Linked DNA regions of Homo sapiens. The protein of the gene in region 1 interacts with the protein of each later gene in a pairwise test. Each region holds a gene or a part of one and is shown in the gene's direction. Other genes may lie near its edges. The genes, in order: TMEM237, MFSD6 and ERMP1.

Region 1 (3,566 bases):
GAAAGAGCGGAACAGGGAGAGCCAACATCTGCAGATCAGCGGCCAGCCATGAAGCTGACAGGATGGCTGAGATTATAGTTCATAAAACTTAGAGAAGCAGTCTTTTTTTTTTTTTTTTTTTTTTTTCCCCAAATGCTGCACGTAGCATCCAAAAGTAGTCTTTTTTGAGAGAGTGGCTAGGGACATTAGGTAAAGAGAAAGCAAAGATACTTTATTGAGGATTAATGTCATGGTAGTTGGAAGGAAAACTTTTAGAGAATTTTCTTGGGAATACTAACTTTGCATTTATATGAATGTATACAGCAGATCTGTTCAGAGTTTAAATAACCTTTGAACCCTTGTTCTCATTATATATGTGGTATATTTTACAGGGAAATTATATTTTCTTTCACACTTTACTTGTTATTTCTCTAGGAGAGGACTGCTGTTTTTTCTTAAAGTTCATAAAATAGATATATTTGTGTATATGAACCAAACTGAAGGCACTTCTAATGAGTGTTTCTACATTTTTAGGGAAGCAGGAATTGAGGAACAGATTCTCCAGCCATGGATTGTGGTGAATCTCGTGGTGGCTCTTCTGGTTGGATTATCTTGGCTATTTTTGTCTTATAGGCCAGGCATGGATCTTAGTGAAGGTATTAAAGAAAAAAAATAGCATAAGAATATCCTGAAATCTTCTATAATGGTTTTATAAACCTCCTTTTAATAGGTATAGCTTATAATATTCCAATAACAAAGACACATTTAAATTAAAATGATACAAGAAGAGAGAAAATAAAGTGGTGTAACAGAATGCCAAGAGAAGCAGGGAGGAGTGTCTAGGAGGGCTTGAGTCTGGAACTACTTAATGAGGGGCTTCTGTGGCCCTTGTGCATTTTCAGGAGGTATTTCTTCTCTTGGAACCCTTCAAGTAATGTAGAAAAAGTCTTTGCTCTTCACTTCTCTTAGTCTCCTGCTGATGAATTTTGAAATAAATCATGCTTTGTCTACATAGCCTCTCTGTCGGACACATACTCAAGTCAATTATTCTTCCTTCTCTATTTGGTACAAATTCTTAACCGTTCATTGGCTAACAGTGTTTAGTACTCTTTTAACATGCTCAGTGTGCAGTGATTCACTCATCTCTAGTCCCCAGACCCCTTTTGGAACACCTGAAGAAGAATCATCATATTAGCAAACTGCTAACCTTTTATGCTGCTTGAGGAACTGTTTAGTATTTGTATTGTAAATTGTGTTTCCTTGGCCAATGTTCAACAGTTTTACCCTTGAATATCTTTTTTTTTTTATTTTTTATTTTTGGAGATGGAGTCTCGCTGTGTCGCCCAGGTCAGAGTACAGTGGCTCGATCTGGGCTCACTGCAAGCTCCGCCTCCCGGGTTCATGTCATTCTCCTGCCTCAGCCTCCCGAGTAGCTGGAACTACAGGCGCCCGCCACCACGCCCGGCTAATTTTTTGTATTTTTAATAGAGACAGGGTTTCACCATGTTAGCCAGGACAGTCTCAATCTCCTGACCTCGTGATCCGCCCGCCTCGGCCTCCCAAAGTGCTGGGATTAAGGCGTGAGCCACCGCGCCTGGCCAAACATCTTTTATGGATATTTTCTGGGTCTTGGTTATTATTTTATTTTTTATTTGACCAACTATTTACAACCTATCTGCCTCAGAAGCCTTAGCATGCAGAATTTCGCCAACATCTATGCTAAGTAATAGTTTAAATGTAGAAAATGTCAGCTAATAACATTCTACATTGTGGCTGGGATCAAAACTGCATCTGGATTGTGCAGTATTCAGTCTAAATATTTCCAGAATCCTGTTCTTTTAAGGCCATGTTAGTCATACAACATGTGGATTTAAAAAGTAAGTATAAAATGAGATGATAATACCTGGCTTCTTGCGTTGTTTTGATGATTAAATGGGATGACCCATTTAAAATATCCTGGCACACATCTCTTGTTAGTTCCAAGTCCTTCCTCTGTATCTGTCCCCTATGTTTCAGATGATCTGATCACTGTAGAATTAGACATTTTAGCTGTTTAATGATCTTTGATTCTCTAAGTGACTTAAATTTCCAGGTAGGATTGTGTATATTGTCTCTATTACATTTTACTTTTAAGGGGTCTATAATTTAAAATTTAAATATTTTAAAATGTAAAACTTGTACATTTGTTATCAGCTTACCTTTTAAATCATATTTCACTGTCAAGAAATCTTACTTGAGGGCTTTCTATTAGTATATATTATGTCAATTTTTTAAAGGACTATTTATAAATAAGCTATACAACTCTGTTGGAGGTACTGGGAAACAATTTTAAGTATGATCTGTTCATTTTCTTCTCCAGAGTTAATGTTCTCCTCAGAGGTGGAAGAATATCCTGATAAAGAGAAAGAAATCAAAGCCTCTTCATAATACCAGCTCACCTTTGGAGGAATAATGACCCAGTATTTGTCCCATTTTTGTTTTTAAATGTATTTTTATAAGATGTATACATGTGTATTTGTAATAGATTTTTTGATTATATAATACTGAAACATCTCTCAATATTATGAAAAATGTTAAAATTGTGTTTGCTGTTTATGTCTAAACATTAATTTGTCTAGCATTATCATCTTAATGACAAAGGGAATAATGAACTAGAAACCAGCAAGTGAAAGTGTTTATTTCCTATTTTCTCAAAACAGTTGTATTTATAACTATTACCTTAAAAAGCACTGGTTTAGAAAAAGCCATAACTTAAATAGTGTTATAAAATATATATCAGGTTTAAACATAAATTTAGCGAATATGGTAGAAGGGAAAAAAGCCTTCATTTTTGACCTCCCCTTACTGAATAAATTGAAATATGAAGTTTGTCTTTTCTGAAACTGGCTTAGTGATTGAGTATCATGTAATAATTATAATATAATTTAGCTTGAAAGATGCTCTACATTATGACCAATAAAAAGGGAATGTATGTTTTGTTTGAAAAATTATATAACCTAAATTTTTTACCTAGAAGTAACTAAAAAGTTGCTTCTCATTATAATCTGTACTAGTGGTTCTCATATCTGGTTGTACATCAGGATCATAGAGGGAGATTTTAAAAATCTATGTAGCAAAAGAGGCTGAGCAGGGCAAGGCTCAGGGGAATAAAGGAGAGACCTGTGAGCTTGTGGGCTCCCAGTTGACATCTGCAGTACCCTTTCCTCTGTCCCTTTTTTCTGAGTGACAAGAAATAGGAGTAGAAATTCACCATCTCTGTTCTCCAGCTCTTTGTCAGAGAGGTTTCTGGTTTTCCAGGAAATCCCCCTCTTGAGATGGGTCCTGCACTGGGAAAGATCTCTTCAGAACTATATCCAATGGTACCTCAGCTGTTGTATATGAGACCCTAAAGCTCAAGTTGAGGAGAAGACTAGCTATGGGAAAAAATGTTTCAAAGGCTGTTGAGCACATCAATAAAACTATTGAGCCTGCCCTGATTAGCAAGCACCTGAATGTTATAGAACAGAAGAGGATTGACAAATTGATGATAGAGACAGTTGACCCTGACAATAGGTCTAAATTTGGAGTGAACATTATACTGGGAATCT
Region 2 (3,657 bases), about 11 Mb from region 1:
TCATCATGTTGGCCAGGATGGTCTCCATCTCCTGACCTCATGATTCCCCTGCCTAGGCCTCCCAAAGTGCTGGGATTACAGGCATGAGCCACTGCGCCCAGCCGACAGTGGCTATCTTCAGGAAGTGAGACAAGATGGAGAAAAGAGGATGTTTTTGCTTTTTACCTTATAAAGTTATGTTTGGGCTTAAAATTTTGTTTTTGGAACAAGCATGTGTTCTCTTATTATATAAACTAAAAAGGAAAACAAAAGAAGACTAGAATTAATTGATTTTATAACAATCCAAAGTAAGATAAAATTGAATGTGCCTAAACTCTAATGTTAGGGAAGTGAAATGAGACTCAGGAGATCAAAGTGAAAGGTGGCATACTGAGAATTGGGGGGCAAAGGGTAAAGAGTCTCAGGTGACTGGCTTTTACTTTTTCTAATAGTAACTGTAGCATATTCTACAACTCCTCAGTTTTCCTCCTCAATAAGAATGCTTTGGAGCATACACAATTTATCTGCTTGATTAGGGGTGATAAGAATTTCTTTCTTCCTGGTCTTGCTAGTGGTGGCTGTCTTTGGAAGCATGATTGTTCTGTACAGAACAATCTGGTAGAAGGTAGGAGTTGGAGAAACCAATTTACCTGCTGTGTCATCTCATGAAATTATGGCATTCTGGATGACTTTAGGTATAATTATTTTTAGTAACAATTTAGGAGAAGCAAGTTATCATAAAGTTAAACTAATCTGATGCATATGTACTTGTTAAATACAGTCCCATAGTTCTATCCAATTCTATGTAAAATTAACTAAAACCACTGCTTAGAATCCTTAAAAATTAATACATTTCCAGACTTAGAAATCCAGAGCCATAATACATTCAGACTTTTCAGAATCAAGAAAACACATGCTTAAACTTGGTTAATTATCATTGTGGTAGTAGGTAATCTTGAGAAAGAGGGAATTGTAAAAGTATTTTACAGAAGAGATATTCTCACAATTTTAGGTATTATCCAACATTTCATTTTGGGTTCTAATTATGTTTTAGGCAGAAGGAAATCTCCATCTTTTAATTTAGGAAACTTTGTTCAATAGGTTATCTTTAAAGGCAGAAATCAAGTGCAAAGTCCTACCCTACTACAAGGCCAGTTTGGGTAAAATTTCTTCCTCAAACTCAACTAACATGGCATTTCCTTGGGCATAGCATTTTTGATTCCTGGGAAAAGCAAACAAACACATCTGATGTCAATTCTGTGTGGGGCAATGAAAACACCTTAATGCCTCCACCAAGAACATTTCCTTTGAGTTTATAATTCCTCCATGTTTAATTATCCAACATTAGCTGTCTGTTCCCATTTACTCTACTGGCATTTTGGGGGTGAGAGGGGCTTGTGTCAGCCTGATTTGTTTTCCTAAATTCTGAATGATACGTTATCCAGTACTTAGCCCCACTGCTGGATTCAGTAACATTTGCTTTGTAGCTGTTTTTGATTGCCCACATTTGGATGATATTTATTTACTGTTTTTGCAAAATGGCATTGTCTCAAGTTGGCTGGGCAACTTTTGGAATCTACCAGTCATTTGTTCAGACAAGTGATGTTTGGTGCAGGGGCCAAAACAGAAAAGCCAACCAAATAATAAATAATTACAAACGTGGAACACCTAAACCTTGAGCCTATATGTTAATATGTGTCTGCTATAGTTACTGGTTGCTATGTTATGGCTTTAAAAAGAGCACACCCTCCCAAACCCCCACCTCTACCTCAGCACCAACAAAAACTACATCCCAATGTTGTATGTATTCAAAGTAGCCTCTCCCTGCCTTGATCCATTATGATGTAAATCTAGCTGAGCCACGTGTTGATGATTATGTTGAAGAGATGTGAGTGAGAGTTCTGTATTACCTTGTGACCTGGTGGTCCTGCTGCATTTTAGGATGGGAGGGGCGGGGTAGAATGGGGGAGAATAGGGCAAAGATGGGAAGAAATTCAGACCCTTAAAAAACCATGTTCAAGAGATGTGGAAAAAAATTGAATTAAGGGGGGCAGAGATGTCTTTCTTTGACATTTGTTGTGGGGCATGTTTTAGAATGGGAGACCAATTCAGGAAACATTTGGCAAGTACAAAACAGGAAAGGCCAGCTCTGAATGACTCTGAGGAAATGTTTGGAAGCATTTTGATCTGAGACCAAGAGTGGGATGGGGGAAAGACAGGGAAAGACAGGGACACTATGAATCAGCAGTGGGCAGAGTGAGCTCTGGTGTGTGGCTTTGAGGAGGATAAAAAGGAGGAACTGGTGCTGCCTGAACAAGCCCGATGTGTGGGTTAACCGTGCCAAAGGAAAGTGAGTGGCGAGCCTGGACTGGTAGTTAGCAGTCTGTGTTGGTTATGTAGAGAGACCTTGTTCCACAGGCAGGTGCACTCCACTCTGCACGGGGCCTGCTCTCTCTGAGCTCCAATAAACCAATGTACCATGAGCCCTGCTATACTGTGGGGTGAAGAGGAGACATGGCAGTCAGGGCCCAGGATTCCAGGAGAAACTGAGCACTGGAGCAGTGGCAGGAGTGGGTCCCTGTGAGTCACGCTGGGAATTCTTAACTGTTCAGGGCACTTTTAGGGACAAAGTTAAGGTAGAACATACTTGGCCTCAAGGTACTTGGCTCAAGGTAGAGCAAAGGAGGAAGGCACCACACCAAACACATAAAGCAGAATCATACAAAGTGACATGCATGCTGCCTATGACTTTTAAGAAGTACTGTGTTCCTGGGGCCTGTCTGGGGGGTTGGGTGGCAGGGGGAGGGAGAGCATCAGGATAAATAACTAATGCATGTGGGGCTTAATACCTAGATGATGGGTTGGTAGGTGCTGCAAACCACCATGGCACACGTTTGCCTATGTAACAAACCCACATGTCCTGCACATGTGTCCTGGAACATAAAATAAAGAAGCGCTGTGTTCTTGATTAACGTGCTCCAATCCAGCAAAGGCAAGCTTCTTTAGCTATTATGGAGTGCCTTTCTTAATTCTATTTCAAAATCATGCCTGTGCAATTGTGTTTAACTAATGAACAAATATGCCCCAATTCACATTTATAAGGGAGTTTAAATAAAAGACTTTATTATGATTCTTTTGAATGAGTAAACATGACACATTTCAATTTTATTTTCTGTGTAATGAGGCTCCCTGTAAAAGGTGTGCATATCTTTTAAGAGTGTCTCAAAGTCCTTGTGACAGTCCCTTTCAATTCCGTATACTGGGAAGCACAAGGCATTAGATGAATGATCAGACCTCAATTTAATAACTCTATAATTTTTCAGGAACTCCGGGAACAAGGACATCCTAATTGTCACTCAAATGTTTTATATTTAAAATAATTCCTTTTTAAATATGTATTTTTAAAGTGATAAATAATGATTTTTTAAAAATCCAGCCAAGTATAAGAAAAAAATTAAATAAGTCCTAATTTTACTACTCAGAGATAATCCCTGATAACACTTTGGTGTCATTTTTATCGAGTCTTTTTCTAAAATACATTTTATTTGAGCTACATAGATTTACAAATATAAACTGTACTATATCGAGAGGTTTGTGTCCTGCTCTTTCATTTAACATGATGCATTTTACCATGTAGTTAAGTTCTATTTTCCCATGATATGGATATAAGATTTTATT
Region 3 (3,657 bases), on another chromosome or scaffold:
AAGATGGTAATAGATCCTTCAGGGGTCTTTCGTTGTTGTCTTGGTTTGCCAACTCCCTTGGCAACTTGTATGTACAACTTATTTGAAGTTAAAATTTGGCTCTGGCCTGGCAAGAATGTAGGTGGCAAAATTTTCATGACCTCCCAAACTCAATATTCCTATCCTTGCTGTGTGACTTGTAATGCCTACCTGTGGAGTAATATACTTCTTCAATCATTATGTATCGAATTATGTACCAAAGCTATAGACTGTGTAAGAATTTGGAAGAGAATTTATATCAGTCGTTTGTAAATGTGACAAAGCAATCGTGCCACTGCTTTGACATTTTGTCTTTTAGGAATTTATTAAAGAAATAGGTCGAAAGCAAGGTTGATCTTTAAAGCAAAATGACTTTTTTTTTTCTATATATATGTTTTAGGAATAGACTTAGCTTTTATTGAGAATGGATACATTTATCACACCAAGTATGACACAGCGGACAGAATTCTAACAGATTCCATTCAGAGAGCAGGTTGGTATTCCAATTTAGACTTTTGATATACACTAAGATGGAATGTTAGGGATGATACATAAACTTGTAAATATTCTGTGGCCTGTGCATTAGAGAGGCAGTATGCAATGTGAATGAGCTAGGGCTTTGGAGTTGGAGAGATGAGATCTTGAATTTTAGTCTTGTAGTCTAGTGTAGCAATTAAGGTCAGGAATATTCATTGTGAGGAAATGAAAAAGGAGTTGGCCCAGGGTTGGGAGGATTGCTGAGTGGTAAGAATGTAGCTCTGTTAGTCTCCCATGATGTTTTCCTGTGGAACTCTGCTAGCTCTCCTCAATTTTTAACACATGTGTGACAGCTTGTTCAGCATCTCTGAGCTTCGTGAAAGGCCTTTGTCTCTTGGTTCACCACTAAATTTCTGATATCTAGAAGAGTGTCTAGTACAGTTAATATATATTATTAAATGAATGGGTACCAAGAAACAGCCATTGGATTTGTCAACAATGAAGGTACAATTGATCACAGAGAATAGTTCTAATAGAAGGGAAAAGATACAGGCCAGTTGGCTGAGCGTCTGAGTGGAGAGGAAATGGAGAAAGGCAGGGGATGGACCTTATTTGAGAAATTTAGTAAAAAAAGTGAGGGAGAGCAGTAGGATGGTAGAAAGCGATTTCTGTTCACATTCTTTCTAACCATTTCTTCATTCAAACAGTATATGGTTTATTTCTGCTTTAAATAGTGGTATGTGTAAATCACAAATAGTTTATTCAGCCTTTTTATCTTTTTCCTTTTCTTTCTTTTTTTTTTTGTTTTTACTAATAGGTGACAACATTTTAGCAGTTCTTAAGCATCTAGCTACATCTGATATGCTGGCTGCTGCTTCTAAGTATCGACATGGAAACATGGTCTTCTTTGATGTGCTGGGCCTGTTTGTCATTGCCTACCCCTCTCGTATTGGCTCAATCATAAACTACATGGTGGTAATGGGTGTTGTTTTGTACCTGGGCAAAAAATTTTTGCAGCCCAAACATAAGAGTAAGTATTTTCCTCTAAAACTACAAATACTGGCATTGCTGTAGAATGTGCTTGAAGTTTTTCAGTCAGTTTGTTTATATCTTCCCAGAAAGCTAAAAATCTTAAGACAATGTTTGCTTTATATTGTAAGAAATTTTTAAATATTAAATTAATATGCTTATTTTACTTTTAGTCTTGGTGAAGCAGTCAATTTTTATATATTTAGGCACTCCATAAAAGTACCACATAGAAACTATTGAAAAATGGTTTGTACAGATTGACTTCTAATGAAAAGTCCCATTAAAAAGTCCACACTACAGACCAATAGCTAGTATGGACCAGTGTCACGAAGTATGAATGAACTGCTTGTGGTTAAACTGTTTCTTTTATTTGAAATATTTCTGCTTGAAATGTTTCAGAGTCTAAGTTGTTGTGTGCTGTTACGAGATAAAATATTTAGCAGCAGTTTAAATAATTCTTTATCAACGCTTATTTTCCCCACACTCCTTATCTTCTTATGTTACCTTATTTTAACAACATTTTATATGGAACTTTGCCTTCCATTCTTGCTAATATTTTGATACACAAAGCATACCAAAAGTGAAGAAGATTAAGACTATCCTCTTCCTTCATAAGGAATGTACCTGAACTATTCCTAGAAGATTTATCTTTTTGAGTGTTTAGTATCTAGAGACTCTTAATAAATGTTACCTGAATATTATTATTTGATACCTCCCTTGTTCTTGTGTTTGGCCAATCTCAACACTAGGACATTTTCATACTTTTCAAGTACAGTGGGGAGTTTTTTGTTTTAATGTTTGCCCATTTAGCTCTACTGACTGGTTATATAACTGATTTGATGAAGATGGTGATTTCAACTTTTTGTTTTCTCTTCATTAGCTGGTAACTACAAGAAGGACTTCTTGTGTGGACTTGGCATCACTTTGATCAGCTGGTTCACTAGCCTTGTTACCGTTCTCATTATAGCAGTGTTCATCTCTCTTATTGGACAGTCTCTCTCATGGTATAACCACTTCTATGTCTCCGTTTGTCTGTATGGAACTGCAACTGTAGCCAAAATAATACTTATACATACTCTTGCGAAAAGATTTTATTACATGGTAAGTGTTTGGTATATTTGTTGATTTCTTTCTGTTGCCTCCAGGGACTGAAGATGAACTTAAGTGTGATTCATTGTATTTGGCCTTTTGAGTGCTAAAAAATTGTTCAGCATGGTTATGGAAAACGCACCTACACTGTGTTAATTTTCTGAAAGATTTCTTATTCTGAGGGTAATGTCACAAAATTCAAATGAGGTTATAAAGCCGGGCTGTTAACAGTGTTAGGGTGGTGGTGACTGGAAGGCTTGTTAGCACAGCCTTCTACTGAATTTGCTGCAGTGTTTGTAAATATGTCCTGGGCTCACCCACTTATTTATGTTATTTGAATATCTGTTCTCCATTGGAGTGTAAGCTCCTTGAGGATAGGGATTGTTTTATTTATTTCTGTATCCTCTGTGCTTAGGTAGTGTCTGACACACAGCATTAACACACAGCAAGTATTTGTTGCCTAAAAGAATGTTGTACTTAAAGTTTTTTCAGTTTTTCCCTCACTGTTTTTTCTTTTTAACTGTATATTGTTGATTCAGATTCTGCATGCATGTATGTCATTGGAGTTAAAAGACACATTGCTAAGGAAAACAGAGGGAAGGGAAATAGGGTTCCAAATGATTTATACTGAGAATATTGTTATATTATTATGGTTTCAAATGCATAAATTTGTTTGGCAAAAATAAAATTAGAAATTAGGGCTGGCCGGGCGCGGTGGCTCACGCCTGTAATCCCAGCACTTTGGGAGGCTGAGGTGGGCGGATCACAAGGTCAGGAGATCGAGACCATCCTGGCTAACACGGTGAAACCCCGTCTCTACTAAAAATACAAAAAATTAGCCGGGCGAGGTGGCGGCGCCTGTAGTCCCAGCTGCTCGGGAGGCTGAGGCAGGAGAATGGCGTGAACCCGGGAGGCGGAGCCTGCAGTGAGCTGAGATTGAGCCACTGCACTCCAGCTGGGGCGACAGCGAGATTCTGTCTCAAAAAAAAGAAATTAGGGCTATGGGCTGGGTGCTGTGGCTCATGCCTGTAATCCCAACACTTT

Evidence for each region.
Region 2: the proteins of TMEM237 (region 1) and MFSD6 interact in binary tests that used the Homo sapiens proteins (3 or more experiments, as listed by UniProt).
Region 3: the proteins of TMEM237 (region 1) and ERMP1 interact in binary tests that used the Homo sapiens proteins (3 or more experiments, as listed by UniProt).

The regions. Positions count from the first base shown.
Region 1 is NC_000002.12:201,623,095-201,626,660, reverse strand, and holds part of TMEM237 (transmembrane protein 237), read left to right. Parts: intron 1-513; coding exon 514-635; intron 636-2,338; coding exon 2,339-2,406; 3' UTR 2,407-3,566. UniProt on the Homo sapiens protein: Component of the transition zone in primary cilia. Required for ciliogenesis.
Region 2 is NC_000002.12:190,411,355-190,415,011, forward strand, and holds part of MFSD6 (major facilitator superfamily domain-containing protein 6), read left to right. Parts: intron 1-3,657.
Region 3 is NC_000009.12:5,808,979-5,812,635, reverse strand, and holds part of ERMP1 (endoplasmic reticulum metallopeptidase 1), read left to right. Parts: intron 1-418; coding exon 419-511; intron 512-1,312; coding exon 1,313-1,525; intron 1,526-2,404; coding exon 2,405-2,625; intron 2,626-3,657. UniProt on the Homo sapiens protein: Within the ovary, required for the organization of somatic cells and oocytes into discrete follicular structures.